2 separate regions of the Homo sapiens genome follow, and region 2 is linked to region 1. The links come from fine-mapping of genetic effects on gene expression. Tissue or cell type: tibial nerve. Region 1 holds a variant in brackets; the other region holds the start of a gene. All regions are shown on one strand. Distances are between the middles of the regions.

Region 1 (2,756 bases):
TTCAGTGCTGCTGCAGCTCTACTAATCCATCATCCCACATCTAGACAGGGCATCCCACCCGTCGGGAAACCCAGCCTTCCCTCACCGCCCTGCTCTGCCCCAGTCCCTCATGGTGTAGGGTGTGCTCCTACCAGTGGTCCCATCGGATCCTCACGATTAGCCTGTGAGAGGAGCCTCCAGATGAGGAGGTTGAGGCTCAGAGCCATCAAGTGGCTTGGCTACAGTCACTGCAGGGAGGCTCTTGCCTTCCAGCCTCCCTGCTCCTACCTTCCCCGGGGGTGTCTAGGTCCAGTTCCAGATCTCAGAGTGGCCAGCAGGCTGAGCCCTGGGGTCAGGGGCCAGCTGCCTACACAGAATGTGGCTCCTGGAATTTCTTGGGTGGTGGGGGGGGGGCGGGCTTCTCCTTGGGATGGGGTTCTGGGGCCGCTCTGGGCCATGAAAGTTTCCCACAGCTTGGAAGAAAATCTGCCACCACTGTGTAGGGGTCTGGCGAGGGACCATTGGCCTGGGGCAGGGACCTGGGGACATCACAGAAGCCGAACTGTCTCCCTGTACCACCCCCTCCCAGCTGGCTCTTCCCTCACCCACATGTTCTTGGCATACAGGTCTGCCCTCTCCAGCAGCTCCCACCCCCCACCTGCTCAGGGCTCCTCGCCTTCTCCTGCAGGGCTTCACAGCAGGCTGCCCTTGCCCAGCTCCCCTTTGCAGATCCACAGTCTCTGGTTTTAGATTTTGTGGGTCTTCACTGCAGGAACTAGAAAAGTCACAAACATGGGGAAGTAACACAGTTTCTGGAAAATCACAGAATTCTAAGTCCCTTTTTTCCCCTCTGAAGAGACAAGAGGGAAGCTTCCACATCTGAAAATTTTTCTTTTTCATTCTTGATCTTCCTGAAGCATAGTGATGGTCTTGGTGTTCCCTTGCTCAAACATCTTCAGTGGCTCCCCGTGGCCCAGCAAAGTCGAGACTCCTTCATGGAATCTTTAAGGCCCTCCCTGATCTGATTCCAACCTCTCCTACTGCCTCTCCCACATCTGCCCTCCAAGGTCCATCCACCTTGTGTGGGCCACTAGCTTCCTGACCTCTGCCCCTTTTTTTGGTGCT[A/G]CCGTCACCACCTAGAATGCCCAGTCTTTTATAGCTGAAGGTCAAAGTCTTGCTCAAGCTTCCAGCCCAGCAAAAGCTACTTTCTCCAAGAAGCTTTCCTCATTCTTCAGCTGAAAATGATTTCTCTTCGCATTCCTTTGTCTGTGCCTCTTATGGGCCCTCACATCTGTTCAGCATTCTTAGCCTCCCATACCCTGTGCACTCTTACGCCTCCAGGCCTTTACTGTGCTGTTTCTCCTTCTTGGAACATTCCTTCCTCCTCCCTGTATCTCTCCCCCAACTCCTCACCCTTCTCACTTCCTCTCAACTCAGATAGGGCCTTCCTTGACTCTTCTCTCCGGTGATCCCAGGACATCTTGCAACTCCCCCAGTGGCCTGGTTCCTCTCCTGGCTCTGACAATAGGCTGTGAGTTGCAGAAGGGAGGGACCACAGCTGACCTGTTCACCACCATGTCCCCAGGGCCAGGGACAGTGATTGAGAAATATCTGTTGCATGCCCTTCACCTGCATTATTGTCTCACTGGATCTGAGTCAATAGCCCCTTCCCCATTTTACATAATGAAGAAACAAGGCCTTGAAAGGCCGGGGACCTGGCTGTGGTTAGGAGTGGGGAATGAATTCCTGGTCTATCTGGCTCCAAAGCCTAGGCTGTTCCCCTTTACCCTCGATCCTCCTGAGAGCCCCTGCCATTGATGAAAGACAGTGGTTGAACATGTGGGCTCTGGCTCTGGGTTCCAGGGTTTAAAACCCAGCTCTGCCACTTAGCTGTTTAACTCCAGGCAGGTTACTTACCATCTTTGAGCCTGTCTTTCTTCATCTGTAACATGGAGTAATTACAGCTTTCCCCTAAGGTGGCTGGGAGAATCAATGAGATGATCTGTGCAAATAGCTCAGTCCAGAGACTGGCATGAAGAGTGTGCCCAATGGATCAACCAGAACAGTCCTTCTTCATGCCCCTGTGTTAATGCAATTATTAATAGCACCCCTTCCAGTCTCAAAGGTTCCAAATTGGATGACAAATCATGTTAATGTCCATAGATGTCAGATATTATCAGCTGCACTGTATAACACCACTTAGCTACTTGCCTTACCTCCCACCAGGCGGTGAGGTCCCTGCATGCAGGAAAGTGCTCTGAGCCTTGGCCTTCCTGGGCCCAGAACAAGGCCTGACACATGAAGCATTTGCTGAATAAATTGCTTTTGGAGGGTGGAGAGCTTCTCCTTGCTCTTCATTTATTCATTCATTCATTGGATTGTTTATACATTTCTTCATGCATCTGGCATTGACTGAGCACTCATCTGCCAGGCAGGGCCAGGTGTAGAGGGTATAAAGAAGACCGGAAGGGAGACTGGCCCTACCAGGAAACTCCTGCTGCAGAACAAAGGGGTCAGAATGACATCACACCAATAACCACTCTCATAACTGTGCTTCTGTTGACAGCGAGAAGTGCCAGGAAACTCAGGGAGCCACGAGAGACTATAAGACAGGGACTCAGTCAGGCAAAGGGAGGCTTATGGGCCAGGTGGAAGCAGAAGTATGTGGAACAGGAAGAAGGAGTGTGGGGGTGTATGCAGGAGCTGCAAGTGTTCAGTACAGCAGGGAGGGTGGATGGAGAGAGAAGAGGCAGAGATCAGATTGCAAAGGCCCCTGT
Region 2 (2,500 bases), 110 kb after region 1:
CTTCCTATTAAAAACAAAAACTAAACTAACAAAGAAAAACAAAACAAAAACCTACATTCTAACTGCCATAGTGCAACCCAGGAAGAGAACACAGTCTACAACTTGGCTGGGTAAGCAATAGGCCAGTAAAGGATAAGGGAAGCAGTAGTTCAAATCAAGGCTACGTGGGGACTGCGCTTTTTTGCCCTGAATTGACTTCTGGGCGGCTGAAAGCCTTGTGGAGAAGGGCAGTAACTGCAGGAGAGCATCTGTAATGAATGGCATATAGGGTACTAAGCACCCTGCGCAAAACGGGTTAGGAAACACTCATTACAGCCACCTTGGGCTGAGGGCAGGAAGACAACACCCTACGGTTTTGTTTGTTTTATTACCCTGTTCTAAGCCTGAGTACAAGTTTGTTATCAGACTCGAGGCAGCAGTATAGCAATGCAAAAAAAGGCAGGACAATTTAAGGTTAAAAACGAAGGGCTCTAGAGGACAGAAAATCCGGGTTCTAGTACAGACTACACCAGTCGCACCAGCACGGGGACCTCTGACCTTAAGCAATCTACTTACCCTAAGTCTCCGTTATTTCATCTGTAAAACAGAGTTAAGGTCAATACCTGAAATATGCGAGACACTTTCTCTGTCCCATCAGATCCTCCTTGGAATCTCACGAGATTGCCTTTGAGGGCTCAGCCATGGGCCACAGTTTGACTCTGGGCTAGCTCCTTTCCCTCATTCTGGGTCATGAATGAAGCAAGAGCCAAACCAGACAAAGTCTTGGTCAAGCTAAGACGTCTGGGACATCCGAATGTCCCATACGGATTGCGGAAGGAGGACACTAAGGCTCAGTGGCCCTACTTTGTGGAAGACTCAGTAGAGGCTCAGAGAGCCGCAGCATCCAACTCGAGGTCGCCCAGCGGCTCGGCGCGGCCCTCGAAGGCGGGACTTACCCGGAGGAGCGTGCAAGCTGCGCCGCTCACATTCCCGGAGGCGCTTGGCCCGGCGGCTGGACGAGGGGGATGGCTGGCGCACTCGCGCTCCCCGCTGTCGGCGAGAGGCGGCTCCAGTCGTGACAGCAGCAACAAGGAAGTGGAGGCGAGGGCTCGCGCGCGCATCCCGGGGGCTGAAGGAGCCCCGGCCCCGCGGCCCCGCCCGGCGACACACGGCGCGGAGTCGCGACAGCCCCTCTCGCTTCCCCTCCTCGGAGTCGCGATATGGGGTCCTGAAGGGCAAGAATAGGAGCACAGGTTCGCTCCGCAGGCTCCTCACCGATGCCTGCCGAGGGCCCCGGGGGTCAAGCCCCGGGGAGCTCGAGGAAGACGGCAGGGACACGGTCGTCACCGAGGCACCGGTTTGGCGGCTGCACCGGCAGTAGCGGCACACCACGGATCGCCAGGGAGACCCGTCCCGGCGGCCCTCGCGGCGCACCGGAAGCGGTCGGCAGCGCGTGACTGCATGCGACCCCTGGCGCAAGCGCAACAGCCCAGCCCTAGCTTGGGAGCGGACCCACACGAACTGCTCAAAGGCTTGGAGCGGGTCTAGTAAGGCGAACGGACTGCTTCCGGCCAGAGGTCCCGGGCGGAGGAGGAAGCTGTGGCTGCCGGCGGTGGGACGCCCCGGCCGCTCAGCCCCCGGGCACTGCTGTGGGGCGTTCAGGTAACAGGGGCGGGGCTGTGCTGAGCGTGAGGGATCTAGGCCCCGCCTCACCTTTCAGAGCCACGTCGGGCGCTGGGAAGCCTACAATACCACCCTCTCCTCAGCACGACGTTCAAGGCCTGACCTCAGCCTGTCTCAGTCTTTCCCTCTCATTCAGGATCGGGTTCATACGTAGTGCCGCATCAAGTAGCGCCTTCATCACTCCAGTGATCTGCCCTCAATCCGTCTCTCCCACTGGCCCACGAATAGTGATGGTAGTGAGTTCCTGGAGTGACTCAAGCTGAGCTGAATGACCGTATGGAGAGCTTCCGTAAATCAAATAGGGATTGGATTGGATTGTCCTTTCTCTCCAGTGTCACAAGTTGTCCACATTTGTACAAGTTCCCGCACAACCCTCACTGTATTCCAGTCTGCCTACTTCTCTGCATCTACCGCCATCACCAACCTTCTAGCCACCATCATCTCCTGCCTGGACTGATGTAGTTCTCCCCACATCCCCTCTACAATCCATTCTCCACGAAGCAGTCAGATTGATCATTTTGCACTGTAAGTCTGATCAAGTCACTCCCTGCTTAAAACCCTCCAGTGTCTCATTCACTTAAAATAAAATTCAGACGTCTTAGCTTGACCAAGACTTGTCTGATTTGGCTCTTGCTTCATTCTCTTTCTATGTCTCCTCTCAATATTAGTAGTTCCCAGAACCAGCTATATAGCACTCTGTAGTGTTTGGAGTGCTAGCTTTGTTGTGAGCCTCCTGGGTTTGAATCCCAGCCCTGCCACAAGTAAGCAATATTAAGCAAGTAAAGTGCTTAACAAATGAGGTTTACGCAGTAGATCCTCCCACCTCAGTAAATGGCAC

What was found. PIP is the estimated chance that this variant, and not a neighbour inherited with it, causes the effect.
Region 2: HMGXB3 starts here. The variant in region 1 is fine-mapped to the expression of HMGXB3 in tibial nerve (GTEx, PIP above 0.99).

Annotation. Positions count from the first base shown.
Region 1 is chr5:150,106,696-150,109,451 of GRCh38, reverse strand. It overlaps a transcript of CSF1R not described here. Among named protein-coding and RNA genes, the nearest start is that of CSF1R, 22 kb to the right of the region's middle. The variant A/G (reference allele first, on the strand shown) is at 1,105.
Region 2 is chr5:149,999,615-150,002,114 of GRCh38, reverse strand. It overlaps HMGXB3 (HMG-box containing 3), which reads right to left and starts at 1,376. Exons shown (of 20, transcript NM_014983.3): 1 at 936-1,376. TIGD6 (tigger transposable element derived 6) reads left to right here and starts at 1,461. Exons shown (of 2, transcript NM_030953.4): 1 at 1,461-1,641. RefSeq lists enhancers at 482-561, 1,449-2,237 and a silencer at 1,642-1,721.